Homo sapiens: one gene and its partners. The protein of the gene in region 4 interacts with the protein of the main gene of each other region in a pairwise test. Each region holds a gene or a part of one and is shown on either strand. Other genes may lie near its edges. The genes, in order: BHLHE40, AMOTL2, HDAC7 and MTCL2.

Region 1 (4,343 bases), on a different chromosome or scaffold from region 4:
GAAAATCATTGCCCTGCAGAGTGGTTTACAAGCTGGTGAGTGCTGATTCTGGCTATGCTCTCTTTAAGAGTTTGAGTGCAAATAGAGAGCCCGTGGGCTCAACATCTGATGTAATAAACATTACTGCAACAAATTGCTTATGCACGTTCATTGGGGGAGATGCAGTTTTATCTTTCCTAAAAGGTCAGACTTTTCATTTGAAATGCATTGTGCCACCTGGCATGAATACGTATTAGTGAAATGATAAGATATTCCTGTGGCATTTTAGCTTGAGAGTCTCTGGGTTCTGGGAGATTTCCCTACTCCCTTTTAAAATGCCAAGGCACCTATAATTTGCATTGTGGGTGTTTTACAGTTGGTCTTCTTAGCCCTCTTTCATTGGAGAAGAAATCATGGGTATGCCCCAGCGTTTTCCTGTTTCTTTGCTTCCTTGTCACTTGGTGTGTGGTGTGATCCTGGCAGGATACAGCAGGAGTTTTTCCTGCATTTCATGTGGTTCCCTGAATAGCCACTAGGTATCTTGGTGAATTGCACAATCTAGCGAAACCACTGAAGTTTCATCATTCGTTTCTACTGACTTCCAGATAATCGGAGTCAACCTTCTAACCTTCTAGTCTCACTTCTTCCAAATAATACTGTACAGACTGGGGAGAATTATTCTACCCACTCCCTCATTTCATGCTTGTCTGCCTTCCTCTCGAAGGCTCGTATGATGAAAATTGCAAAAACCCAGCTAGTGCTTCTGCCTGTTTCCTCATTCAAAATAGGAAGATGGTCATACCTAATGTCTTGAGGATCATGGATAGAATATGTGGAGAAGACATAGAAATAGCCTAATTAAAGGTCACAGCATGACTGCAACTTTTACAAATCATTGAAAATAAGTTTACTTTAGGTGATTGTTGTTTCTTCATTCTTTTCCTCATTTTATAACTATCCAGCCTCTGCCCATTTTGCCACGGTGCAATGTTGTATGCATTGACTCTTAGGTTTATAAATACATCAGAATGTTCTTTGCTGCCTCGCTTACATGGAAAACTCACAAACCACCTATACAATCCAAAAGAGGGGAAACAGCTCATCTCATATTAATTATGGTCCATTTCCATGATAGGATATTATGCAACCATTAAAAATCATATTTTATCTGAGTGTTAGTATATGGATTATTTTAATTATTTATACTTTTCAGTGTAATTCTTCTCTGAGCATACTACTTTTGGAGTTAGGAACACAAATCAGTAAATGCATTTTTTTTTTTAACAAAAACTAAAGCACCTGGTTTTTTGGAGTATAGTTTCCAGGTGCGCCACAGGCCTTCTGAAACGTTTTCCTTCGGATTTTTCTTTCCCCAGGTGAGCTGTCAGGGAGAAATGTCGAAACAGGTCAAGAGATGTTCTGCTCAGGTTTCCAGACATGTGCCCGGGAGGTGCTTCAGTATCTGGCCAAGCACGAGAACACTCGGGACCTGAAGTCTTCGCAGCTTGTCACCCACCTCCACCGGGTGGTCTCGGAGCTGCTGCAGGGTGGTACCTCCAGGAAGCCATCAGACCCAGCTCCCAAAGTGATGGACTTCAAGGAAAAACCCAGCTCTCCGGCCAAAGGTTCGGAAGGTCCTGGGAAAAACTGCGTGCCAGTCATCCAGCGGACTTTCGCTCACTCGAGTGGGGAGCAGAGCGGCAGCGACACGGACACAGACAGTGGCTATGGAGGAGAATCGGAGAAGGGCGACTTGCGCAGTGAGCAGCCGTGCTTCAAAAGTGACCACGGACGCAGGTTCACGATGGGAGAAAGGATCGGCGCAATTAAGCAAGAGTCCGAAGAACCCCCCACAAAAAAGAACCGGATGCAGCTTTCGGATGATGAAGGCCATTTCACTAGCAGTGACCTGATCAGCTCCCCGTTCCTGGGCCCACACCCACACCAGCCTCCTTTCTGCCTGCCCTTCTACCTGATCCCACCTTCAGCGACTGCCTACCTGCCCATGCTGGAGAAGTGCTGGTATCCCACCTCAGTGCCAGTGCTATACCCAGGCCTCAACGCCTCTGCCGCAGCCCTCTCTAGCTTCATGAACCCAGACAAGATCTCGGCTCCCTTGCTCATGCCCCAGAGACTCCCTTCTCCCTTGCCAGCTCATCCGTCCGTCGACTCTTCTGTCTTGCTCCAAGCTCTGAAGCCAATCCCCCCTTTAAACTTAGAAACCAAAGACTAAACTCTCTAGGGGATCCTGCTGCTTTGCTTTCCTTCCTCGCTACTTCCTAAAAAGCAACAAAAAAGTTTTTGTGAATGCTGCAAGATTGTTGCATTGTGTATACTGAGATAATCTGAGGCATGGAGAGCAGATTCAGGGTGTGTGTGTGTGTGTGTGTGTGTGTATGTGCGTGTGCGTGCACATGTGTGCCTGCGTGTTGGTATAGGACTTTAAAGCTCCTTTTGGCATAGGGAAGTCACGAAGGATTGCTTGACATCAGGAGACTTGGGGGGGATTGTAGCAGACGTCTGGGCTTTTCCCCACCCAGAGAATAGCCCCCTTCGATACACATCAGCTGGATTTTCAAAAGCTTCAAAGTCTTGGTCTGTGAGTCACTCTTCAGTTTGGGAGCTGGGTCTGTGGCTTTGATCAGAAGGTACTTTCAAAAGAGGGCTTTCCAGGGCTCAGCTCCCAACCAGCTGTTAGGACCCCACCCTTTTGCCTTTATTGTCGACGTGACTCACCAGACGTCGGGGAGAGAGAGCAGTCAGACCGAGCTTTCTGCTAACATGGGGAGGTAGCAGGCACTGGCATAGCACGGTAGTGGTTTGGGGAGGTTTCCGCAGGTCTGCTCCCCACCCCTGCCTCGGAAGAATAAAGAGAATGTAGTTCCCTACTCAGGCTTTCGTAGTGATTAGCTTACTAAGGAACTGAAAATGGGCCCCTTGTACAAGCTGAGCTGCCCCGGAGGGAGGGAGGAGTTCCCTGGGCTTCTGGCACCTGTTTCTAGGCCTAACCATTAGTACTTACTGTGCAGGGAACCAAACCAAGGTCTGAGAAATGCGGACACCCCGAGCGAGCACCCCAAAGTGCACAAAGCTGAGTAAAAAGCTGCCCCCTTCAAACAGAACTAGACTCAGTTTTCAATTCCATCCTAAAACTCCTTTTAACCAAGCTTAGCTTCTCAAAGGCCTAACCAAGCCTTGGCACCGCCAGATCCTTTCTGTAGGCTAATTCCTCTTGCCCAACGGCATATGGAGTGTCCTTATTGCTAAAAAGGATTCCGTCTCCTTCAAAGAAGTTTTATTTTTGGTCCAGAGTACTTGTTTTCCCGATGTGTCCAGCCAGCTCCGCAGCAGCTTTTCAAAATGCACTATGCCTGATTGCTGATCGTGTTTTAACTTTTTCTTTTCCTGTTTTTATTTTGGTATTAAGTCGTTGCCTTTATTTGTAAAGCTGTTATAAATATATATTATATAAATATATTAAAAAGGAAAATGTTTCAGATGTTTATTTGTATAATTACTTGATTCACACAGTGAGAAAAAATGAATGTATTCCTGTTTTTGAAGAGAAGAATAATTTTTTTTTTCTCTAGGGAGAGGTACAGTGTTTATATTTTGGAGCCTTCCTGAAGGTGTAAAATTGTAAATATTTTTATCTATGAGTAAATGTTAAGTAGTTGTTTTAAAATACTTAATAAAATAATTCTTTTCCTGTGGAAGAGAAAGATGGTCTCCTGAGTTTTTTAAAATAGCTCACTTGGTGTGATATGGCTGACTCCCATGTCCTTCTTTCTTGGCTGAAGCAAACCAGTTAATCTCAGTGTAATTTCATTCAGCTTTTCATGTGCTTTGTATTCAATCAGAATAAGCTTAGTCAACCTGGCAGGTAAATATTGGTTCAATTTTTGTTTAACCCTTGCCAGGGGTTCATGATCATCCTCTACCTCTTTCCAGAGTTAAGTAAAAAGCATATTTTCCCCTGCCTGCTTTCATCGTGGTCCTTGGAACTTGACAGAAAACCAAGGTATGACACCGTGGGCAGCAGTGTCTGGGGAGCCTGCTGGAGGGAGAGGCACATTGAGAAAAGATTTACTGGATTATTATGCAATACTAATTGATGCTAGGATAGCACCTCTTTGCCAAAGCAGTCTAGCTTTTTCAAATCTAGCAAGGTCTAATGGATTTGCCATATCCTGTCTTATTCCTGCTGGAGGCAACATTCCATAATTATTTTCTACATCCTTCCTGGACTTCCTCTCCGGTATGTTTGTGCGTGAATGCATATTGGGTGTTCCTTCGACAAGTGCTCTTATTTAAAAAAAAAAAAAAAAAATTCCATGGGAAAGGTGGGAAATGACCCTGTCGTG
Region 2 (7,934 bases), on a different chromosome or scaffold from region 4:
AGCTGAGCCATAGCAAGCCAAGTGGAGGCATCTGAGGCAGCCAAAAATGGGATCCTAGACCTTAACCAACAGATGCATTCTAAACGGGGCGGTCTAAGCATCCTTGAAGAATGGGCAAGTTCATTGACTAGTCCATTTATTCATTCATTAGCAGATGTGTTTTAAGCAACTGGCAGATGTTCAAGAGAGAATGGGAGCAGGCCCAGGAAGGTACCATGGCAGGGAGGTCAGGAAGGAAGTGGTGAGCTTAAGAAAGGAGCAGGTTCCCACAGATGCAAAAGAACAACGGGGGTGGCCCTAGAAACCGGTGATTAGGAGCCCCGGTGGCCTGAGAGAGGGGCTCTGTGGGGATGGCAGGGGTGGAGAGCCAGCCAGAGGTGAAGGAGCTATTGGGCAGTTCAAGAGGTACATGGGGTGGGTGGCAAAGGGAGCCCTGAGCTCAGCAGCAGGAGGCTCTAGCAATCAGAAGAGACTAAGAACAGTTATTTATTGAGCTCCTACTAGGAGCTTTAGTGCTGTTCAAGGTGTTTGCAGAGAAGTGGAATGGGAGTGGTTGGTAGCTGGGTAAACATGGCTTTGAGTCTTCACAGGAACCCTACTGTGAATGGCACAAAGGGTAGTGTGGGGTGCAGAAATGGAGGAGCAGCTTGAGGACTTAGCTCTGGCTGGCAGCACCCCTATCTTCCTTCAAAGAGGGTTCAAAGACTAGGGCAGGGAATGGGGGAACACAGCACTGAAGGAATTGACAGGGTGGGGCAGGAGGTAGGCTGGTCTCTTCTGGCTGGGTGGGGTGAGATGGCAGCGGCTTAAGGTCTCTGGGAAGGAGTCAAAGGGAAGGAGGGAGAAAGGGGAGGGGGCAGCCCTGGGGTTTCCCTGAGGAGTCTGGGGAGGAGAAGCTGCAAGGGCACGGCAGATTAGGGTGCCTGTGGAGGAAGGCGGACTTCTGGAGCCTGACTCTGCCAAAGAAAGGAAGCCATGGGGCGGGTTTCTGGGAGCTTGCTAGTGGGTGAGAAGAGGGGGGCCGGCCGGGAGGCGTTTCCGCTCCCCGGGGAGCGAGTGAGCGCCGAGCTGTTCTTGGCTCCTCGCTGGAGCCATTAATCTTGCAGCCGCGGGTGACCTGGATGCCTGGCATTCCAGAGCCGCGAGCTGTTCCGCTCCCGGCCCGCCCCCCGCCGCTCCCTCCCGTGCGCGCTGCCTGGCGCCCTTCGCCCGGCTTTGGGAGGAGGGAGGGTGAGCACAAAGGGAGCCTGGAACGTGGAGGTGGGGGCTCGCTCGCTGCCCAAGGCGCATCCCGGGTCCCGTCGGCGCCTCGCCTGCCTTCCTGCCCTCCTCCGCTGGCCTTCGGGCGTCCTCTTCCCACCCGCACCCAGACCACTTATTTCTTACTAAGGAGCTCTCCTTCCCGAGATCCCGCAGGCCCAAGGTTTTATCAGGGTCCTGTTGGTAGGGGATGGCCAGAGCTCAAAGCCTCCCAGCCCCCACCAGGGCCTTAGAGGTTGGACAAGGCTGCAGGAAGCTTCTGGAAGCAGAGGGCTGGGTCCTCCGGCCCCTTCCTCCCCCAGGGCTGAGGAAACCCAAGCAGCTCTTCCTTGCTCCCTAGTAGCTATTGCAAAGGGAGGTGTCTGATTGACCTCCCTTTTATCTGGGGTCAGTCAACACTAGGAAAGTGTGGCCATTATCACCAATGCCATCTGCTTTTCCTCCTAGGCAAGCCACGCAGCCCCCCAGCACTGCCCTTCTGGCCCTTCTAGGCCAGCAGTGCCCCCTGGGGATCTGGCCTTGAGGCCTGAGGCTGGCCTGTTAGCTCCACCCCCTTGGGAATATTTCTTCTCTCCCTGCGCCCCAGATTCTCCAGCTATAAGATGAGACAGAGTCCTTCCCCACAGAGTCATGCTAAGGCTGAAATGAGATGCAGGCCCTGGGCAAACTGAACGCACAGGTGGACTAGGGGAGGGTCCTCCCTGCCTGAGTCCCAACCTGGCTGCCCCTCCTCAATGGATGTTAACACCCCACTCAATGGATGTTAAGCCAGCGAAGTATGAACACATCCGTTTCAATATTATTGGACTTCCTCGTATTTTCCTCCATGCCACAGAATGATACCATCCTGGGCTCAGCCTTCAAACATCCAAAATGAATCAAGAGCTAACCTGAGTTGCCTCTGTGTCCTCCCTGCCCTGCCCCAGGGACCTGAGTAAATGAATCCTCCCTTCCACATGCCAAGGTCTCAAGCCTTCACCCTTCTGTTCCAGAACTTGCACTGTCCTATATGATAGGTACTTAGCTGCATGTGGCCCAAAGATTGAAATTAATGAAAATAAATTAAATTTAAAATTCAGTTCTCCCATCTTACTAGCCACATTTCCAGTCCTCAGTGGCACGTGTGTCTAGTAGCCACTGCATTGGAGGGTGCCGTATAGAACAATTCCACTCTGGCAGAAAATTCCACTGAATCAGAATGCTGTTCTAGAGACAGTGCCTTTAGGTTCATTAGCGGGAGCCCATAGCCCTGCCCCCCACCTGCTCTCCAGCAAGGTAGGCAGCTGACCTGCTCCTCAGGGGGCAGCCTGGGACTCTCAAGGGGCAGGTGCCTGGGAGGTGGATTTAAGGCTAGAACATCAGATGGAGGGCTCTGTGGTCTGGCTTGGGCTTCTCCTGGCCCTATGGAGAGGGCCTCTGAGCAGTTTCTTTGGGCAATTAACAAAATGATTTAAAAGTCAGGATAGCTTGACCCTTACACACTAATCTTTGGGCCATAGTCATTTTCACTGTACTGCAGACTTTGCATTTCCTTCTGAGCCTGGTTGCTTACATCTCAGTGTTCTTTTCAGACCATGGAAGGAAATGTAGCCCTCAACGGACCTCTCGGCCTGGGTCTGCAGAAGGAGCCCCAGAGCTCTGGGTGGCCTATAAGTACAAACGCCTCACCATGTAGCCAGAGGCAGCCTGGGCCTTTGTAGTGTGGCCAACTGGGGTTTCCATTTGGCAGCACCATTCACCTCCTATGTTTCTCCCCTATAAGTTGGGGATCCCAAATCCTCCCTGGAGGGGCTGGAGGATTCGTGGAATAAGATGTGTAAGGGCCTGGTGTGCCGACAGCCGATGGTGGTTCTGTTCCCCCTTCTTTCATTCTCCCACTGGAAGGAGGACCATGTCACAGCCTACCTGAGTCTCTATTTTCTCATCTGTACATGGGCATCACAGTTCCTACCTCAACAGTCTCGAGCCGTCACAAGGTTCAAGGGATATTGTGGATGTGTTTTAGACATGGTGCCCCTGGCACAAGTGGATGGTGTTTGGGGCTGTCCCATGGCAGTATGTCCCAGTAGAAAGGCAGGGTAGCCCAGTTGTTACTGCAAGGGTCCTGGAATTGGGCTCTGTCATTTACTCCTGACTTAACATGAGCCTTGGTTTCTTCTTCCATGAAACAGGGTTAATAGTGGTACCTTATTCCTGTTATTTTTGAGAGAATGAGAAGCAACTGTGCTCATCCAGTGGTCAGCACTGAGCCCAGGAGGCAATGGGGCCAGCCAACGTGGTCACTGTCACTGATCAAGCCTCTTTCTCCCTACAGGCTACGAACAGCAGCAGGAGCAAGAGAAGCTGGAGCGAGAGATGGCACTGCTGCGCGGCGCCATCGAGGACCAGCGGCGGCGTGCCGAGCTGCTGGAGCAGGCTCTGGGCAATGCGCAGGGCCGGGCAGCTCGAGCCGAAGAGGAGCTGCGCAAGAAGCAGGCCTATGTGGAGAAAGTGGAGCGGCTGCAGCAGGCGCTCGGGCAGCTGCAGGCAGCCTGTGAGAAGCGGGAGCAGCTGGAGCTGCGTCTGCGGACTCGCCTGGAGCAGGAACTCAAGGCCCTGCGTGCACAGCAGGTGAGCTGAGAAAGTCTCCAGGCTAGGGCAGCATCTGAGGATGTTGGCTTCCCTTCCTCCTCGGGGACTGTAGGTTTGGAGGCCAGGGCTGAGGCCCCGGGAGCCCCTGCTTAGATCTAGGCTGCAGGCCCGTTGGAAGGCGGCGAGGATGATTGCTCTCTGCTCCACCTTTGCTGCGTGCTCCCTTCCACTCGTTGTCTTAGTAGAGGCCCTGCCACCTGGCCCATGTCCAGCCTCGGGGGACTCCTGTCCTCGGCAGCAGCAGGGCTAGTTGTCCTTGACCTCTAGAGAAAGTAAGTCAGGAACCTGGATATAGAAGGCCTGCGAGCTTTTTTTTTTTTGAGATGGAATCTCATTCTGTCGCCCAGGCTGGAGTGCAGTGGCGCGAACGCTCACTGCAACTTCCACCTCCCAGGTTCAAGCCATTCTCTTGCCTCAGCCTCCCGAGTAGCTGAGACTACAGGCGTGCGCCACCACGCCCAGCTAATTTTTGTATTTTTAGTAGAGATGAGGTTTCACCATATTGGCCAGGCTGGTCTTGAACCCCTGACCTCACGTGGTCCGCCGACCTTGGCCTCCCAAAGTGCTGGGATTACAGGCATGAGCCACTGCGTCTGGCCACCAGCCAGCTTTTATATGCCTCCCCAAGATTGGGAGGAAAGATGGTTGTCCAGATCCACTGTGCTTAGCCTCACTTCGGACTTCTGTGTAAACAACTCTTGGTGTTTACAAACCAAATAGAGTTATTTCTCCACTCCCAAACCTACCCTTGCCACAGAGGTAGTGTGACTGAACCCCCTGGTTTGCCCAGTTCTGTTCTAATGTACACCAGTTTTCCCAGTATAATTATTGATAGCACCCCCTTTGCCAGTTTGGAGGATTATCTGTCTGGTCTCTATGCCCTTGCCCTAGGATTCAGGGCAGGGGTATGGGGACCTGTGCTGTATCCCCATTTCGGTAGAGGAAGGATGGGGAAATGTATGCTGTGTATGGCTGAACACGTACATGTACAAGTGACAGTCGTGTGGAGGCGAAGACCAGTGGCTGCCACACCCCAACCTGCACCCTTGACCACGGTCTCTACTCCTTGCTCTGCAGAGACAGGCAGGTGCCCCAGGTGGTAGCAGTGGCAGTGGTGGGTCTCCAGAGCTCAGCGCCCTGCGACTGTCAGAACAACTGCGAGAGAAGGAGGAGCAGATCCTGGCGCTGGAGGCCGACATGACCAAGTGGGAGCAGAAGTATTTGGAGGAACGTGCCATGAGGCAGTTTGCCATGGATGCGGCTGCCACGGCTGCTGCTCAGCGTGACACCACTCTCATCCGACATTCCCCCCAGCCCTCACCCAGCAGCAGCTTCAATGAGGGTCTGCTCACTGGTGGCCACAGGCATCAGGAGATGGAAAGCAGGTTCGGCATTGCAGGCCAGGCACCTGAGGTTGGGGGGGTGGGTGGCAATGTCCAGTCACTGCCCTGCCCTTGATCCCTGATAAACAGGCCCCTTTCCCCATAGAGCTCAGCAGTCCCTCCTGCTTCTGAGCTGAACCTGCATGATTGGCACACCAGGCACTGTAAACATGCATTTGCCCAGAAATACCGAGTCCTTGGTCTGCCCAGGAGACTCTTACTGTGGAGGTGTTGGGTGCCATCCAGTGCTTGGGCCCTGCCTCCCCTCTCCGGAGTGCCGCCCTCCAGGATGAGGGCTGTGCCGCCACTATCATCTGATGAATCTGGAACCCATCCTTAATGGCCTGCCTTTGCTGGTGTGAGAAGGGCCCAGGGCCTTATGCACTGGTGGTTTTCAGAGCCTGGGCTCTAAGAGCATCAAATTCCAGAGCTGTGGTGCCATTTCTAAGCCCTCTCTGGGTCCCTGCTACAAGCACAGAAGGATCCAGCCTGGCAGGGTTGGGGGAGTTGGGGGGGGCTTTTCCTCTAACTCCTATGAGGCAGGAAGGGTGGAGGCTGTTGGATCTGTGGGTCTGACAATGTGGGCATGGCCTCTCACCCCTCAGGTTAAAGGTGCTCCATGCCCAGATCCTGGAGAAGGATGCAGTGATCAAGGTCCTTCAGCAGCGCTCCAGGAGAGACCCTGGCAAGGCCATCCAGGGCTCCCTGCGGCCTGCCAAGTCGGTGCCATCTGTTTTCGCGGCTGCGGCAGCAGGAACCCAGGGCTGGCAAGGGCTCTCTTCTAGTGAGCGACAAACAGCAGACGCCCCTGCTCGGCTGACTACAGGTAAGAGGAGGCTACTGCTGGGATAGATTGAGAGGTAATTTCTCCTGGGCCTGAACACAGATTGCCAGACCTTTCCTCCCAGAACTGAGGCTATAGGAGCCAGGGCTTCCTGACCCTCTTCCAGGGGAGCTGGCTTATTCTCTGCCTCTAGTGACTCTACAGCGCAAGGCTCTCCTGCCAGTGTGAAGAGGGGTACTTAGTCCCCATCACCATAAATTCTATCATGCTTCAGCCCCAGCCACTGAACTAAGAAAAATAGAGCTTCCTGTGCAGATACACCTTGTATGCAAGCTCCCTCCACTCTTCCTTCTAAGCAGATGCCACAGAAACTCTAGAAGATTTAATCTATAAGGAAGGGTCCCACCACCCAAAACATTTGGAAGCCAATCCAATCTGGTAGTTATTCCCATTTGAAAATAGGAGCATTTTTAGTCTTAAAGTTCTTGCAAATCAAGAGCAGCCCACTCCACCTTGAATCCCCAGCAGGGACAGTTAACTTAGAGTGTCCTTCACCAGGGCCACATCTTACAGGCATGGCAATAACCATCCACCTACCTTTCCAGCAGACAGAGCACCCACAGAGGAGCCAGTGGTCACAGCTCCCCCTGCTGCCCATGCCAAACACGGGAGCAGAGATGGGAGCACCCAGACTGAGGGCCCCCCAGACAGCACCTCCACCTGCCTGCCACCGGAGCCTGACAGCCTTCTGGGGTGCAGCAGTAGCCAGAGAGCAGCCTCTCTGGGTAAGTCCTCCTGACCCCACTTCTGTGCTAGGTAGGGCCGAGGGGGCACTGGGGTGTGAACTGGAACACAAGGCCTTTTCTTCCCAGACCCCCTCCGGGTCATTGCCCGCACTCCATGGGGAGCCGTGCATAGCCAGAGGTGAGCAGGGTGCCTGGCCCACCTCAATGTGAACATGAGGGATGGCTGGTTGCATGAATAGGGAAATTGGAAACCCTGATTAGAGGCAGATCCAGAATTCAGAAAGAAAGCAACCAGATGGGAGGCACTTTAGCTCCTCTTTCATGGTCTTCCCTACATAGTTAATTTCCAATTTGATTATCCAAGAGAATGGAGCTCGCAAGTCATGCCGATGGCACTCTGGAAGCCTGTTTAAAGAGTCCGGGAAGGAGAAATCTGAGAAGATGCCATTTCTTTTTCCACTCCCCTTTCACATTGGCCTTTGCATATTTGCCTGTGCCTCATGATCTCAGAAAACCACAGGCATGAAAAGAATGCTGCAGCCTGCCTCCCTCAGGGCTCTCCATTGCTCTCTCTAAGCCCTCCAACCAGTTCAAAGTTAGAAACAAATGCATCCTACACATCGGAGGTTGGTGGGCTGGGCTGAGCACTGAAAGGGGGCAGAGCATTGTGCTTGGTTGGCCGAGTTCTGGGAACCTGGGCAGCAGAGGTGGGAAAAGTTGGTGAAGAACGATCTTTGTCTTTCAAATGTGCCAGGATTTTAAAAGCAATCTAGTAACACTCATTGGCATGTGCCTGTGTTCTTGTCTGTCTCCAGACTCTGTAGCTACATCCAGAGTCCAGGACTTGTCAGACATGGTGGAGATACTGATCTGAAGGAGGTGGTGCTTCAGGACTCTGAGCCATTCTCTCCCCTCCTCTGCCCTGTGCCACTCTCAGCCATTTCAGCAGCCCCGTCAACCGCTGCTCCGTCCCTTTCCCCAGCCAGACACTCATTCCCATTGACCATCTGGTCCCAGGAGCTCAGGAGGAGGACCCCAGGGGAGAGGAGAGCTGTGAGAGCACCGGCACCCCCAGAAGACTCTGCTTCTTAGCCCACATTCCTCCGGGCCTTATGGAGAATGAGGATTCAG
Region 3 (7,956 bases), on a different chromosome or scaffold from region 4:
CCTCCAGTGGGGTGTGGGGTATTGCTGGAAGCAGGGCCTGAATAAAGTCTGGGGCTAGCGGGAGGGCATCTGTCCTCCCGGAGGCTCCCAGGACTGTGCATTTGTGTGTGTTGGATTTGTTCACTAGATGGGGCACTTCCTTTGGGGCAGGAAGCTTTGATTTCCTGTGGTGATGGTGAGGAGGGGTTGGTAAGGATTAGGAGTGGGGGGCTCAGCTCTGGGCCATCCTCGATGTTGTTGTTTGGAACCACGGAGGGGCAGAGTTTCTGCTTAAGACTGCTTCTCCCAGCTCTGGGGAGGCAGGAAGGAGAGCCTTGGTGAGGAGGCCCAGGCCAAGGCTGGAGAAGGAGGCTGTGAGAGCAGTGAGCTGGGGGTGGGCAACACAGCAGGAAGCCCGGTCAGCAGGTGACCCTGCCGGGTATTGTGTTTCCTTGTAATATTTTCCCCCTGTTTCTGTGGTAACCTTCCCTGGAGGCCCCAGGCCTTAGGGCTACAGGAAGGTGCCCCCAGACAGCCCTTTCCTTAGAGGCCTGAGTATTAGGAGGAGTCCCCAGATCTAGCCACCTCCCTAACCCTTTTGGCTCCCTAGGATCAGGGGCCTGGGAATCTAGGCGAGTGGCCTGAGTGAGCATGGACTCGCGGGCTGGGGGAAGGCCCTTTGGCGTCTTCTGGGGGGAAGGGAGAGGGAAAGAGGGGAGCTGGACGCCCGGAAGGGCCCTGAGCAACTTGAGTCGCTGGCCTAGCCTCTTGTTTCCTCCCAACCCATCCCCACTGCCCTCCTCCAGTCTCCCTCCTCCTACAAGGGAGAGGTGGGTAGCATGCTGCCTGGGGCAAGGGGCAGGGGTGGGGGTGGCAGAGGTGGGAGGGATGTTTTCATCAGCAGAGCATAGCTCCTTTGGTCCTGGACCAGTTCCCAGAGGCAAAATAAATTCAGGACAGCGTCTGTTTAGTGTGGGTCTGCATGAGATGTGTGTGAGCACACACTGGGTGCGTGGTGGGTATCTGTGTGTGTACCCCTCCCCCCAGACCCTGTGTATGCTGATGTGGTGGTTCCGGGCAATTTGTGATCTATGTGGTGGTTCTGTGTTGGGTGTTTTGGGAATATGCACACATAAAAGACAGATGTGCATCATCTGTATGGTGCACACCTTTTCAGGTTATGGCCCTGTGTGGGGTAAACATGTCCATATGTATGGACATGTTTTTTGGGGGTATATATCTGGGCAGGAGTGGCTTTTTAATAGAAGTCCAGATGCTGGCTTGTAAAACACCATCTCATTTGGGATTCTCAAATGCGGGTTCCTGGACCATTTGCTTCAGAGTCACCTGGGGAATGTGTTAAAGATAAAGATCCTGGGCCGGGCGCGGTGACTTACGCCTGTAATCCCAGCACTTTGGGAGGCCGAGGCAGGTGGATCACCTGAGGTCAGGAGTTCAAGACCAGCCTGGCCAATGCGGCGAAACCCTGTCTCTACTAAAAATACAAAAAATTAGCCAGGTGTGGCGTGCGCGCCTGTAATCCCAGCTACTCGGGAGGCTGAGGCAGGAGAATTGCTTAAACCCGGGAGGCAGAGGTTGCGGTGAGCCAAGATCACGCCATTGCACTCCAGCCTGGGTGACAGCAAGACTCTGTAAAAAAAAAAAAAAAAAAAAATCCTGGCTGGACGCGGTGGCTTTGGGAGGCTGAAACAGGCAGATCACTTGAAGGCAGGAGTTCGAGACGAGCCTGGCTAACAGGGCAAAACCCCATCTCTACTAAAAATACAAATTTAGCCAGGCATGGTGGCGCAGGCCTGTAGTCCCAGCTATTTGGGAGGCTGAGGCAGAAGAATTGCTTGAGCCCAGGAGGTGGAGGTTGCAGTGAGCCGAGATTGCGCCACCTCACTCCAGCCTGGGCAATAGAGTGAGACTGTCTCAAAATTAAAAACATTCAGATCATCAGGCCCATTCCAGATTGACTAGTCAGAATCTGAGGGGTGGGGCCTGGGAATCCAGATTTTAACAGGTGCTTCAGGTGATCCTGGGGCAAGGCTGTGTTTGAGGACCACTGCCCTGGGTCAACCTCTTCATTTTTTCTTTTGAGGAAATAGACCCACAGAAGGTATGTAGTTTCTCTAAGGTGACAGGGCCATTAAGAGGAAGAACCAAGAGAAAACTCAAGGCTTCTAAGACCTGTCCAGGACTTTGTGCTCACCCATGTACCCCCTGTGTGTGTGTGTGCATGTGTGCTCATAACTACACTTTGTGATGACGTGGACCCGATTGGGCTGGTGCTAATTGGGGCTGATCTTTCCTCTGGGGTCCTGGCTTTCTTGTTTTCTGACCTTGTTCTTCTTGCTACATTCTGCTGCCTCCTTTTTGGAGAAATCCTGGAACTGTTGAGTGTCATCCCTAAAGGTCAATGTTGGCAACCAGGGAACCATGTTGCTGAGCCAGTCACTCAGCAATTCATCCATTCACTGGATCCTAGCTGAGCCTTGCAATGTTCTAGGCACTGGGTACAGATATGCAGTGAACACACAGGCACAACATCTGACCTCAGGGAACTTCCACTCTCGTGGAGAAGACAAACAGAACAAGTAGGCAAGTAAAGGAATGAGTATGTGTGACTAGTTACACACTGTGATAAGCCCTAAGAAGGAAATGAACTGGGCATGGCAATAAAGAATAACAAGGTGGGACTTCCTTTGATAGGGTGGCCAGGGGAGGACTGCCTAAGAAGGTGACATTGATGCCGTCTCCCACCTCCCCAGGTTGGAAGTGAGCCATCAGAGCCTCTGGAGCCGTGCTTGTGAACTCCCTGGATGCAGGTGGAGGCCCTGGGCTGACCAATGGCTAAGGGTTGGAGCTGAATTGCCAGCCTCTCACTTGGCATGGAAGATGGCAGTCTCCTCCCCTTAAGCAGCCCCAAAGGTTGGCAGAGGGGAGAGCAGAAGGGGGAGCTGCACAAGGCCAAGATCAAAGCCACTCCCTTGCTTGGGGAGCACCCTTTTTCTTCCATGGGGCTGAGTCCAGGGCCCTGTGGCCATACTGAATGTTGAGAAGGAGGCAGCATCTCCCCAGGAGCTCTCCTGTTTCACCTTCCTCCCACCTCCTTCCCTTCTCCGCCATCTCCCCAGTTGGGGAACTACTGTGCCAAGTCCCTTCCCTCTGGTCTAGCCTGCTGCCTCTGTGGCCACTTTACTTTACTTGGCTCAGGAATCACCAAAGAGAGGGGGTCAAGGCCTAGAGGGGACCTGGGCCCTGGAAGAGAGGACAGAACCAGAAAGGAAGGCTGGGGTTGGGACCAGAGAGGACAGGGCTCAAGGGAGGATGGAGGCTGGGACAGGAGAGGCACACGGGAAAAACCTGAGCCCAGATGGCCCTTTGGCTGGGCTCTCCAGAGTCTCTCCTGGGCCCTTGGAATCTGCTGCCCAAACTGGGGGAGACTCTGAGACCAGAGGGCCAGATGGGGCTGATTCAAGACACGGGCTCTACATCAGCTGGGAGGAAATGCCCCTGTCTGGTCCACCTGCAGCTCTACGCTTCACCCCTCTCAGGAGGTTAACTTTCACATCAGCAACTTGGGTGTCAGGTTCCGGCTCTAGGCCAGCAGGCCTCAGCCCCTCTCACCTCCAACCTCTTCTCCCAGGAAGGTTTTTCTGGGGACCCAGAGCTTCAGGCTGCAGGAAGGTGTTGCCTGGCCCTTGCCTTAGATTATTGAGTGTCAAAGGAGCCCTGACTCCAGGTCCGCTTTTCCCCCTGCACACTGCCAAGGCTGCCTTCCACCCTGGGCCTCTCTGGAGGCTGCTCAGTGCTCTTCCCGACTCCCAGGCCTTCCCGCCCAAGCTCCACAGCCCCCACAGCAGGATGGGGAGGGGACTTCTCCTCGTCAGGAAGGCCCTGGGCTAAGCTCACCATCCCCACCCTGTCTCCGCACCACTTCCTTTTTCCTCCATCTTGCCTGCAGGGATTGTAAACCCTGGTGGTCAGAAGCTTTGGGCCTATAGGGTCAGCCTCTCACCCTGGGGATCCGTAGGGGAACTCCAATCCCCTTCAGTTCAGCTTCCTCCCTGCAGGACCCATTCCAAGGAGCCTAGCTCTGGCTCCTGAGGTGACCCCAGCCCAGAAGTCCCATTCCCCTCTACCCCAACCCCCAGAATGGCAGGAGGAGCAGGGCAGTCTGGGAGTGACAGGTTCGGAAAGAGTCTGGGGTGGGGGAATTCGGCGATTGGGCTGTAACCGTCTTGTTTTGCTTGCCCCACAAACCTGCACGTCCGGGACGTCCGCTGCGCCCTCCCAGGCGCGTTCAGGTTATAGAACTGCTCTCAGAATGACAGGCTGGTGGCACCCGGCTGGGGCGGGGGGTGGGGAGGTGAAGGGGGGAGCCCCAGGCAAGGGGGAGCTGGAGGGTTAAAAATAGCAGCAGCCTTGTTTCGGTTAGCAAATGTGGAGGCGGGGAGCTGGAGGCGGGGCGGGCGGCGGACGATGTTTGCCCGCAGCGCAGGGCTGTGCTTCCCCTGGGTCCCGGGAGTGAGTCACGGCGGAGACGCTGAGGAGGTGCTGGCGCAGCACCCCACCCCCACCGGGCGAGGGGCTGAGCGCAGGCCTCGCCCCCCAGATTCCAGCGCTGAAGGAGGTGTGACTCTCCCTTCCAGGCAGCCGGGGCCGCCTTGAGAGTGAGCCAGGGGCATCGTGTGATAATAGGGAAGAAATGTGCCATTCTGACGCCAGAGATCTGGGTTTGAATCTTAGTCGAAAGGTGTGGGATCTTGAGTAAGGATGCTGATGGCTCTGAGACTCGATTTCCTAGTTTCAAGTGGGGCTTTTCTCTGTGCCCCACTTAGTGCTTAAAGCACTCTACAGATGTTAATTATCGCCTTAGACCCTACTGTATATATGGCAAAGCCTGGCAGGAGAGCTTCCTGTAAGGACGCAGAGGGAGGAATGGGATGGCCTTGGCTGAGTCTCGGTTTCTCCTGCAAGTGTGATTATGGGCACATTTTGCTCTGTGCCTCCACTTCTTCATCTGTAATGTGAAAATAATTACAGTTTCAACTTTATGGAGTTGCTATGAAGATTAAAGGAGATAATGTAAATAAAGTTAGCTCTGTGCCTGGTATGAAGTCAGGGCTCACTGAATATTCATCATCATTATTAATGTTATTGTTCATATTTTTTGAAGGTCAGGGATAGGGAATGTTGCAGACACGAAGAACAGAAACTGGGCCTAGCCCCAGTTCACAGAAAAAACCAGGCCAAATCCCTGTTCCAGATTCCTCCACCCATCGCGGCCTGGAACAGCCAGAGAGCTGTAGCCAGAAGTCATAGGGTGGACCCCTGCTTCTCTTGTTCACTCCCTCTCCCAGCCTCTCCCAGTGAGGCAGGGCGAGGAGGGACCCCAGGGCCTTGAAGCCAGCTGGCCCTGGAGAGGGGCTGCTGTGCCAGCTTGGGGAGGGTCTGGGATGGGGCTGCCCCTGATGGCCCTGATGTGGAGTACCTTGCCAGCATCTGCTGGGGTGAACTTTATTTTAGCCCTTCCCTTGTTGCTCTTATGAAGAACAGAGGAGGGGTGGGCAGGTCAGTGATGTCAGCAGTGAGTATTCCCAGCACAGCGGCTCTGGAAGAGGCATGAGGCATTTCTTTCAGGAAATGATCATTATTCAGCCAGAAGGCATTCATTAAGTAAGTCCTGACTTTGTGCCCAGCTCTGTGTTATAGGCCCTTGGCGAGACTCAGGAGGGGCAGAGGACGCTAGGTTGTAGATAACACGGAACCTCAGAGGATATATGGTCCAAGAAGACCCGGGGGCGGTGAAAACCCTGTGGACTAATGCTCACGGGAGCCCGAGGTCACACTTTGACTTTGCTACCATGGGCTGTGTCTATGTACGTATATATGCTGCGTAATTATTACAGAGGCAGTCCATGTGCATTGTGGATACTCAGACAGGACAGACCAGCAAAAACTAAAAAATAAAAAACATCACAGACGCATCAGTCAGAGATCACTGCACATCTTTCCATTTCCGTATGTGTCTTTATGTGTTGTAATTTTTATGAAAATGAGATTACTCTGCATATACTGTTTTTTCAGTCAGTGATTTCCACCTTCCATTACAGTAAATTTTCATCTTAACGGAATTCCCAGTTGGCCAGAAATTGTCCTTACAGCTGGTTTGTCCAAATCAGTACCCAGGACCATGCCATCTGTCTGTTGAGTGACCTGAAGGCAGTGTAAGCACCCTAGCTGGATTTGTGATCTGGAAAAACCCCTTCAACCAAGTCTCAAGGGCAGCCTGGCTGCAAAAGGGAATCAGGTCACGTGGAGAATCTGCCCACTAGACTTCTGCTGTCTTCCAAAGTAATAGGCAAAAGGAGGGGGATTCTAGGGCACCACTGGGATGGGACCTCTAGGGTATTTACTGTCATTAATGTTAATGTGGCATCCCTGTGAGTGTCAGGATTCACAGCTTGTGGCTATTCACATCCGAGATGCCTCAGTTCGGTTTGCCTGGTTCTTACTGAGTGCAGACCAGGGTCTCCATTGTGGCTTCTGCCTTCCTCTGCCCCAGATCCAGGGATGCTGATAGCCGTGCGGCTGTGTTCCTAGTCCCCAGAAAGTGGCCCTGAAGGTAGGTGCTCCCTTTTGCACTTGTGGGTGCTTCCAGCGCTTCCACCTGCCCAAGGCCTGCCCGTGAGTGAGAGACAGAGATAGAGATAGAGAGAGAGAGAGAGAGAGAGAGAGAGAGAGAGAGAGAGAGACCTTTTCCTCCCAAGAGAATTTACCCCCGAGTACCCACTCTGAGGGTGACTTGCTCTGGTTATGCAACCCGCATTTTGTAGAGGGCTTGACAGTTTCCAGAGAGCTCACGCAGCGTTTGATCCTCTGTGGCAGCCCTGGGAGGTTTGCTTGTTTAGTTATACCCTGCTGGAGGCAGCTAACAGGAAACACTGTAAAGTGTTTAAATGGTACACTTTAAAATGGTAAAATGTACATTTAAAAAGGAAGGGAAATAGAAGATGAAAAAGGAATTGAGGATGGCAGGGGTGGAACACAGCACACTTTGTGGGAACAGGCTGGCATTGGGAGCATACCCTAGGGCCTCACTGTGTCTTGCATCCCCTTGTCCCCTTGGTGGTCTCACCTCAGCCACTACTAGGAGGCAGGCTGAGTAAGCAGTCCACGCCAGTGTACCGATGCTAAGCTTAGGTTCTGGAGTCCCAGCAGCTCCACATACCATCTGTGTGACCTCAGCAAGTTTCTGAACCTCTCTTAGCCTTAGTTTCCTCATTTGCAAAATGAGAATAATAACAGTATATAGGCCGGGCGCAGTGGTTCACGCCTGTAATCCCAGCACTTTGGGAGGCCAGGGTGGGTGGATTCAGTGAGTTCAGGAGTTTGAGACCAGCCTGGCCAACATAGTGAAACACCGTCTCTACCAAAATACAAAAATTAGCTGGGCATGGTGGCTTGCACCTGTAATCCCAGCTACTTGGGAGGCTGAGGCAGGAGAATCACTTGAATCCGGGAGGCAGAGGTTGCAGTCAGCTGAGATTGTGCCACTGCACTCCAGTCTGGGTGACAGAGTGAAATTCTGTCTCAAAAACAAAACAAAACAAACAAACAAAAAAACAGTATCTGCCTTACAGAGTTGTGAGGACTACTTGCAATAGTACAATTAAAATGTTTAGTGGGGGCCTGGTGTGGTGGCTCAGGCCTGTAATCCCAGTACTTTGGGAGGCAGAGGTGGGCGGATCACTTGAGGCTGGGAGTTCGAGACCAGACTAATCAACAGGGTGAAACCCCGTCTCTACTAAATATACAAAAATTAGCCAGGCATGTTGGCGCACGCCTGTAATCCCAGCTACTTAGGAGGCTGAGGCAGGAGAATCACTTGAACCCGGGAGGCAGAGGTTGAAGTGAGCCAAGATCGTGCCACTGTACTCCAGCCTGGGTGACAGAGTGGGACTCCAT
Region 4 (8,950 bases):
TGTGAGGCTGGCGGCTGGGATAAACAGATATACAGAGAAGTTAAGGGACTAACCCAAATGTACACAGTGAGAAGTGGCATGGGCTGGCCTTGCTCTCCTCTCTTACCCACACTCCTTCCCCTCTCTGGCCTTAGCGCTGTTCTTGAACTCAACGAGCATTCCAATTTCCCTTAGCCTGAAATCTTCTTACTCCAGACCCTCACTCAGTTGGCTCCACGGCATCCTGCAGCCCTCAGCCTCCCTGTGCACCCCAGCCCCCACCTTCGTGTGCTCCTGGCAAACTGTCCCCTTTACCCTCATTATGATCTGTGTTGTGATTTCTTGTATGACTATTGTTTAATTCTGGTCTCCCCAAAAGCTCTATGAAAACAGACACCTCATCCTCCCTTGTCCACAGCTGTATCCCAGATCTGCCCTAGCACACGGCAGGTTCTAAATAAACAGCTGCCGAATGAACCAATGAGGGGCCAGGAGAAAGAGCCCAGCCTGCCTTGGGTGATGAAGAGGATCTATTCTGCCCTCACAGAATCCACAAGAGAACAGGCTGGGTGCACATGGAAACATGTCCCGTGCCTCTGACAAGAGCAGTGATCAGAGGTTTACTACATACCAGGTGCTCTAATGGTGTTTGCAGGAATCAGCTCATTTAACCGTTGAGGTTGGAAAGCGTGTTACTGTCCCATTTTTACAAATGAGAAAGCAAAGGTCCAGGGCCTTTAAGTAACTTGCCAAAGATCACGCCGTCAGGAAGCGACAGACCCCAGATCCAATAGCAGCACGAAGCCTGAGCCACTGAATGAATGGTGGAAATTACGGTTCCATCTTGGCCCAAACGTGGGATGTCCCCAGCTGGACCCCGGCCCCTGTGAGATCCCGGGCTCAACCCCCAGCCTCCTGGGACTGTTTTCCCCTTTAAACAGTCATGGGTGCCTCAAACAGACTTTGGGTCAGAGCCTGATGACTTCCTGGGATGGACAGGGGCCCATGGAGATGGGTGCCTAGGAGCCCTGAAGCAAAGCTCTGCAACCCATCCCCCTTCACCAGAGTGAGTAGCAGGAACCGGGAGGCAGGGGTGAGGAACTCAGAGTTTCGGTTAAGGCCAATTCAGGCAGCACTCACTGGAAGCAGCTCAGAGCACCAAGAGGGCAGGAGCAAAAGACCCTTGTCCTGGCTCGTCACCTCCCTCCTCCTCCTCACCTTCCACTTGCCCTCTCCTTACCACCGGCTTCTGAAGACTCAAAGAGCCGACTGAACTCCCAGTTGCCAACACCGAACCCGGCCCTTGGGAAGACATCCTCCCATTTAACGGATGAGGAGACTGAGGCCTGGCTTGGGGAAAGGTGTCTCTTGATTCAGACAGACCTTGTCCTTCCATACTACAAGCATTTACAGAACTCAGGCTGGAGAGCAGATCCCGGGGAAAATGGGGAGACAGAGACATAGTTGAGCAAGACACCAACACTCTAATGAGGGAGAAGCCCATTTGGTCAGAAGAGCCACAAGGAAAAGTTAAAACCTAAGTGCTGAGGGCAGACATAAACCAGCAGCATGCTGTGAGCTCCACAGCCAGGGGCACTCTGGGTGTTGTGCCAGGCCATCATCCACTGACAAGAGTCGGCAACATTTCAGCCTCCTCCAAAACCGTGCCCAGCCAGCGGCAGGAGAGCTCAGGAAGCTTCCAGCCTCCCAGGGAGAGGTCAACACGTGCAAGCTGGGCTGTCCCTAAAGCTGCCATGGCACCTGGAAGCGTGCAGATGGAGCCCGGCTGGCACCCAGTAGGTGCTCATGTCCACTGAAAAAGCAAAGGCAAAGCCTGCTGTCCGGGGGAAGCCCTAGGGTCCCCACATGGCCACAGGGAAGTCCTGTTCCAGGTGGGCAGTTGCCCTCCTCTCACTGCGAACATGGAAAGGCACTGGCCACGAGGGGCCAATGGGGCTGTTGTGTGCACAAGGTCTGCCCCAGGGAGGGCAAAAGACACTGTCCTGGGATTTAGGAAGCTGCCTCTGAACCGGTTCTCCCACGACATCATCCTCCAGGCTGTGGGACCGTTAGGCTGGGCGGAAGTGGACTCCAGCCAAGGGGATGTTCCCAGATGTCATGCTTTCAAACTGGACCCGCCCAGAAAGGCAGGCAGAGACAGGCCTGCGCCCGGGAAAGCCCTGGGTAACGACTCAGGATGGCATTCAGGCCTTTCCTGGGCAGGGGATGGCCACAGGTTTCCCTGGCGGCGGTGTCTATCAATCCCGTCCCAAGAAGGAGAGCCTGGGCGTGGAGGTTCTGGGCAGCTGAAGGCAGAGATCCATCCCTTCCCTGGCTACCCACCCCCACCTCAGCAACGCCTCCCAGAACGCTCCAAAGCTTTCTCAAGTCCCCGCTCCCAGGTTAGGGCCCTGTAGCCAGTTCCAAGGTCTTTTTCAGGAGCGCGCTTCCCAAATAAAGTTGAGAGGGGGCGGGGGGAATGAGGGAGCCCCAGATCCACCTCAGAGTGGTCCCCAGAGGGCTTGGGCCCCTTTCTCCGGATTGTTCAGTGGGAAGGAGGGCCGGCTGGTGCCTCAGGCCCGCGGGACTGTGACAGCCGGCGACCCCTGCGACCTCCCTTTCTACCCGGGCGCCCCCACCTTGAGATAGTCGTTCTCCGAGCGCAGCTCCTCCAGCTCCCGCACCAAGCCGCTGGGCCCGCAGTCCAGCATCTCCTCGGTGAGGTCGGAGAAGGCAAGCGAGGCGCTGAGCGGCAAGCGGCTGCTGCCCACCGACGACGCGGCCACCGACGGCTCGTCCGGGGAGGCGGGCGGCCGCGGGGGCTGCTGCGCGGAGGGCGCGGGCTGGGCCGGCTGCCCCGTACGGACCCCCGCCGGGCCCCCGGCCGCGGACTCGGCGTCGCTGCTCAGCGCCAGCTCCAGGCCCAGCAGGCGCGCCTCCTCCGACGCGCAGTCCGACACCTCCGAGCTGCTATCCGTGAGGCTGGGGGGCGGCGGTGGCGGTCGCGGCCCCGCACCCGAGCGCGGACGGCCCTTGGCACGGACCCCGGTGCGGACCCCGGCCACCCGCACACCCGCACCGCGCGCCCCGGGAGCCACTGCGCGCCCCTTCTTGTCCGGCCGTGAGGAGAACGCGGCGCTGCAGGCGACTGCTGAGCCCGGGCCTGGGCCGCGGCGGCCCTTAGCCAGCGACCAGCCGGCCACGTCTTTGGGCCGGGCCGGCGACGGCGCGCGGTGGCTCTTTTTCCTCTCCGGGGCAGGCGCGGGTGCAGGCGCGGGCTGGGGACCGCAGCCCCGGACCGGGGGCTCGGCCGCCGGCGCCTCCATCGCGGCCTCCCTCGGCCTCAGCGAGCTGCGCGCATGGCCCAGGCCCGCCCGGCCTCGACGTCCCTGGGGAGGGACCCGGCGCGGCTCCGGCCGCTGGGGCTGCGGCTGCTCTCGGCCCACCTCGGCCCCGACACCGCGTCCCCGTCCCAAGCCCCGCCGCGCGGTCTCTCCGCTGCTCTGGGCTCGGAGAGTGCGGCCCGACCGCCTCCAGGCGCCCCGGCTCCGGCTGCGGCTCCGCCCGGCGCCCGCCCCCTCGGCCTCGCCGCGCCCCCGGAGCGCGCCCGGGCCCCCGCCGCCCGCACGCCGATCGCTCCCTCGGGCTCCGAGTCCGGCTGCGGCCCGGGCCCCGGCTCCGCCCGGCGCAGCCCGCCCCCCGCGCAGCCCCGCCAGCTCCCCGCCCCGCCGCCTCGGCTCGGGGGCGCGCGGTTCCGCGAACAAAAGGCGGACGCGGCGGGAGCGGCAGGGAGGGACGCAGGCAGGGAGCGAGGGAGGGATCTGCGAGGCAACAGCGACCCCTTCGAGGGTCAGGCTGGCGCGGGCAGCCGCGGCCCGGGCTCCCTCCTCCTCCGCTCCGCCGCCTCCTCCCCTGCCCGCTCGGGGAAGGCACCCGGCGGAGGCGCCCCTGCGCCCGGCGTCCGGGCAGGGCCTGCGAGAGCGGCGGGAGCCGGGACTCCCGGGCCGAGGCCGGGCGGACCTCAGTTCGCAGGAACCCGCATCCATGCACGCCCAGCGCCTCGCCCCTCGCCCCGTGCCGAGCGTGCGCGAACTCCGCCCCCTTAGCCGGCATCGCCGGAGCCGCGATCCCATCGCACAGATGCGTAAACTGAAGCCTGGGGTGCACGCGCCAAGCTCACGGTCTAGGCGGCGCCGATGGGACCCAAAGCTCACACCTCCCGGGCGCGCTCGGGCTCCCCCTGCCTCGGCTTCCCTCTCCTGGCATAGGGACCGTGAAGCCCTGTGTGCATGCCTGGCTCGCGCACCTTGACCGGCGGATATTTCTCCCCATGCGCCCCCGACCCGGGTTTCAGGCTCTGTACGGCTAAAATGGAAGCGACCCGTAGCTAGGCGCGGTGGCTCATGCCTGTAATCCCAGCACTTTGGGAGGCCGAGGCGGGTGGATCACGAGGTCAGGAGTTCGAGACCAGCCTGACCAACATGATGAAACCCCGTCTCTACTAAAAATACACAAATTAGCCGGGCGTGGTAGCGCGTGCCTGTAATCCCAGCTACTCGGGAGGCTGAGGCAGGAGAATCGCTTGAACCCGGGAGGCGGAGGTTGCAGTGAGCCGAGGTCGCGCCACTGCACTCCAGTCTGGGTGGCAGAGCTAGACTCCATCTCAAAAAAATAAACAAATAAATAAAAACAAAAATAAAATGGAGGGGACCTATTACGAGATGTCAGCCTAGCGGATGCTTTGGAAGGCGGTTTTGGCCCCCGTGGGGGCTGGCATGGGCTGGGACGGTTGCCCTGACCCCACACGTCCCCACCAGGAGCAGTGCAGGAGGACTTGAGCTCTGATGGGCGTGTTTTCTTTCCTCCCGGGCGTCTGGGCGTCTCCTTGGCTCCTGGCCGTGTTGATTTTCCCATGTCTCTCACACCTTCCCCAGCCCCCACACCGCCTGGCCGCTACGCCCCCATCCCTGAGCCACCGCAGGGCAGAGCTGGATTGAGTGCTTTGCCCCACAGATGTACCCTCGTCCTTAGGGTGCCCCACACCCCTTGCCACCAGAAGGGCAGGGCTGTTTTTGCCCCTTTACAACCTCTTTCTCCTCCTGTTCTCTCCTCCCCCTCCCATTTATCCCCTGCTCTTTCTTCCTCCTTCTTCTCCCATCTTTCCCCTTCCTTTCCCCCCTCCTTTTCCAAGTCTTCCTTTTCCTCCTCTTTCCCCTCTTCTTCCTCCTGCCCATTTTCTCCTTCTTCTTCCTCCCCCAATTCCCTTCCTTCACCTCTGCACCTGCCTGTGACACAGCAGGCACCAGGTCCACTTCTTTGTCTCTGTCCCACCTCCCCCACACGCTGTGAATACACTCCTGGGGCATCCCCTCTCTCCAGAGGCATGACTTCATCTGGATCCAGGTGAGTGAGTGCTCCTCCACCCCAACGCTAGGTGCCCTCCATACGGCCAAGTGAGGAGCAGGCACTCAGCAGGCTCTTGGCAAACACTTCCGCAGGGGCATCCCCACCCCCTCCTAGCAAGACACCAGCTCCCCTCACGGCCCACTGACTGTCCACAAACCCTGTTTGCACAGGCGCCAGGTACACTGAGGGACGCAGTGGTGGGCATGTCAGTGCCTGAACTCATGGAGCACACAGTGTGTGTTGGGGGGGACCACAAAAGACTCAGCACAAACAGGGTGGCATGGCATGTGGGCAGGAGTGCTGGAGAAGGATGTGGGAGCCGCAGGCTAGTGACCCAGGGCAGGCCTTCCCACATTCCGGGCCTCAGAGTCCCCACCTGCTCTGGTCTAATGTAACAGATGACAGGGTCCATCCAGCTCAGATGCCCCTGGCTCTAGTAGGCTGCATCTAGTCTGGCACAGAAAGATGCTGTGAAGCTCTTGGAAAGTGTGTCCTCTCTCTGTGCTTCAGTTTCTGCCCCTGTGCAGAACATAGGTTTGGAGGTGTTGGGTGGTGTGAATGCAGGGACATAGCAGACCAGGCTGGCTCAGCCACTCCTGACACACCCTTGGTCACATCAGTGGTCCTGAGATTAGAGTGGCCTGCATCTCTCTTCTAGGGCAGGGATCTGAGTCCTGGCTCTACCACCTATCCTCTCTGGGCCCAACACTCATGGCTGGCCAGGGAGGGGCCTGTGGGTCCCACCTGCTCTGAGGTGCTTTGGATTTGGGGAGTCAAGAATCTACATTGTAGACCCAGGGAAGCCTTGAGAACAACAGGGCTCTGGTGGGGAGGGACTAGGTGGGGCTGACGTAGGGGCTGTGGACTCAGGGTCAGTTCAGACCAGGGATACCACAAAGGAGATAAGACTTGTTGAGAGTCCAGAACTGGCTACATTGTAGACGGGGTGACCGTCCTTGCGCCGGCACATCCTGCAGCTGTGTGATGCGTGGCCTCTTCCTGTGTGCCGGGCTCTGTGCTCCACATTTCAGTAAAGGATCTCCAAAAGGTGAAGATACTTCTTGTGACTGATTAATATTTTCCAAAGGGTATATCTCATCCCAATTGCTCTTCTTACAATGTGACACTGATGCTCCTCCAATTGAGCGGCACATGTGTGCGGCACGTGTGTGGGGGCACTGTGTGCCCCCACCTTGAATCTCAGCAGATCTTGTGACTGTCTCAACCAACAGAGTATGGCAGAAGTGTTCATCTGTGACTTCCAAGGTTAGGTCATAAAAAGCAACATGGATTCCACCCAGCTTGCTTCTCTCTCTCTTTCTCTCTCTCTGTCTCTCTGGCCACTCACCCACCATGATAGGAGGAAGCCCAGGCCTCATGGGGAGACCGCATGAAGGTGATCTAGCCAACAACTCCAGCTCTGGTCCCCACTAACCACCAGACATGTGAGAGAGTGAGCCTGCAGATGATTCAGCCCCCAGACTTGGAGCTGCCCCAGTGGACAAGTGGAGCAGAAATGAGCTGTCTCACCAACCCTGCCCAAACTGCAAAATAAGTATTGTTGTTTTCGGCCACTAAGTTTTGGGGTCATTTGTTACATAACACTGGGTAGCTGGAATGTGTGACCAAGGTCACACAGCTTGGATGTGGCAGGGCTGGGATTGACTTGAACCCAGAGCTGCCCAATTCCAGGGCCTGTTGTGGTACCCTATTGGGCTGCGAAGTGCCCAGCACAGACACACAGTGTGTGCTGCAGAAAGCGCTACTCAAAAGAGACTGAAGCATTACCTTGTAAGAATTATATAACATAGGAAGTGAAGATGCTGATTACCCAAGTAGAAAAACGGTTTCATTTCTCCCATTCAAGCTGCTAAATTGACCAACGTGATGAAAACTGAATGGAGACTCACTCCTGGAAAGCTTCCAAGAGGAGGTGTGTTTTTTCCTTTTAAACTAAAGTTGTTTTGTTTTGTTTTTTCATTATACAGATTAAAAAACAAGCAACTGGCTATGGGAAAATTAGAGGAATCGGTCGGGAAACCTCATTAAATAGGGGAGTCAGGAAGGCCTCTCAGAGAAGGCAGCCTTTTTTGTTTTTGTTTTTGTTTTTTGTTTTTTGTTTGAGATGGAGCCTAGCTTTGTTGCCAGGCTGGAGTGCAGTGGTGCAATCTTGGCTCACTCCAACCTCTGCCTCCTGGGTTCAAGCGATTCTCCTGCCTCAGCCTCCCAAGTAATTGGGATTACAGGCATGCGCCACCATGCCCAGCTAATTTTTGTATTTTTAGTAGAGACGGGGGTTTCACCATGCTGGCCAGGATGGTCTCGATATCCTGACCTTGTGATCTGCCCACCTTGGCCTCCCAAAGAGCTGGGATTACAGGTGTGAGCCACTGCACCCAGCCAAGGAGGCAGCCTTTAAACTGAGTTATTCTTTTTTTTTTTTTTTTTTTTTTTTTGAGACAGAGCTGTCGCCCAGGCTGGAGTGCAGTGGCGCGATCTTGGCTCACTGCAAGCTCCACCTCCCAGGTCCACGCCATTCTCCTGCCTCAGCCTCCAGAGTAGCTGGGACTACAGGCGCCCGCCACCACACCTGGCTAATTTTTTTGTATTTTTAGTAGAGACGGGGTTTCACTGTGTTAGCCAGGACGGTCTCGATCTCCTGACCTTGTGATCTACCCGCCTCGGCCTCCCAAAGTGTTGGGATTACAGGTGTGAGCCACTGTGCCTGGCCTAAACTGAGTTATTCAAGGAGCCACTGAACAGTTAGGGCCTTGCCTTTTTTTTTTTTTTTTGAGACAGTGTTGCTCAGGCTGGAGTGCTGTGGTGTGATCTTGGCTCACGGCAACCTCCACCTCCCAGGTTCAAGCAATTCTCTTGTCTCAGCCCCCTGAGTGTTGGGATTACAGGCGCCCACCACCACACCTGGCTAATTTTTTTTTGTATTTTTAGTAGAGACGGAGTTTGACTATTTTGACCAGGCTGGTCTCTAACTCCTGACCTCAAGATCTGCCTGCCTTGGCCTCCCAAAGTGCTGGGATTACAGGTGTGAGCCACCATGCCCGGCTGCTGCTTTTTCTTTTTTCTTTCTTTTTTTTGAGACAGAGTCTCACTCTGTTGCCCAGGCTGGAGTGCAGTTGCACGATCTCAGCTCACTGCAACCTCCACCTCCCAAGCTCAAATGATTCTCCTGCCTCAGCCTCCCGAGTAGCTGGGATTACAGGTGCGTGCCACCACGCCTAGCTAATTTTTTTTTTTTTTTTTGAGATGGAGTGTCACTCTGCCGCCCAGGCTAGAGTGCAGTGATGCCATCTCAGTTCACTGCAACCTCCACCTCTTGGGTTCAAGCAATTCTCCTGCCTCAGCCTCACAAGTAGCTGGGACTACAGGTGCCCGCCATCATGCCTGGCTAACTTTTGTATTTTTAGTAGAGACAGGATTTCACCGTGTTGGGCAGGCTGGTCTCAAACTCCTGACCTCAAGTGATCCACCCACCTCGACCTCCCAAAGTGCTGGGATTACAGTTATGAGCCACTGTGCCTGGCCCACTTCTGTTTTCTCAATGAAG

Evidence for each region.
Region 1: the proteins of MTCL2 (region 4) and BHLHE40 interact in binary tests that used the Homo sapiens proteins (3 or more experiments, as listed by UniProt).
Region 2: the proteins of MTCL2 (region 4) and AMOTL2 interact in binary tests that used the Homo sapiens proteins (3 or more experiments, as listed by UniProt).
Region 3: the proteins of MTCL2 (region 4) and HDAC7 interact in binary tests that used the Homo sapiens proteins (3 or more experiments, as listed by UniProt).

What each region holds. Positions count from the first base shown.
Region 1 is NC_000003.12:4,981,481-4,985,823, forward strand, and holds the end of BHLHE40 (class E basic helix-loop-helix protein 40), read left to right. Parts: coding exon 1-35; intron 36-1,355; coding exon 1,356-2,212; 3' UTR 2,213-3,843; downstream 3,844-4,343. UniProt on the Homo sapiens protein: Transcriptional repressor involved in the regulation of the circadian rhythm by negatively regulating the activity of the clock genes and clock-controlled genes.
Region 2 is NC_000003.12:134,357,448-134,365,381, reverse strand, and holds part of AMOTL2 (angiomotin-like protein 2), read left to right. Parts: intron 1-3,574; coding exon 3,575-3,870; intron 3,871-4,968; coding exon 4,969-5,276; intron 5,277-5,878; coding exon 5,879-6,099; intron 6,100-6,662; coding exon 6,663-6,842; intron 6,843-7,618; coding exon 7,619-7,677; 3' UTR 7,678-7,934. UniProt on the Homo sapiens protein: Regulates the translocation of phosphorylated SRC to peripheral cell-matrix adhesion sites. Required for proper architecture of actin filaments.
Region 3 is NC_000012.12:47,809,592-47,817,547, reverse strand, and holds part of HDAC7 (histone deacetylase 7), read left to right. Parts: intron 1-1,894; exon of another isoform or gene 1,895-2,873; coding exon of another isoform or gene 2,874-2,913; exon of another isoform or gene 2,914-4,467; coding exon of another isoform or gene 4,468-4,618; intron 4,619-6,594; exon of another isoform or gene 6,595-6,613; intron 6,614-7,956. UniProt on the Homo sapiens protein: Responsible for the deacetylation of lysine residues on the N-terminal part of the core histones (H2A, H2B, H3 and H4).
Region 4 is NC_000020.11:36,860,040-36,868,989, forward strand, and holds the start of MTCL2 (microtubule cross-linking factor 2), read right to left. Parts: upstream 3,500-8,950; 5' UTR 3,306-3,499; coding exon 2,619-3,305; intron 1-2,618. UniProt on the Homo sapiens protein: Microtubule-associated factor that enables integration of the centrosomal and Golgi-associated microtubules on the Golgi membrane, supporting directional migration. Preferentially acts on the perinuclear microtubules accumulated around the Golgi.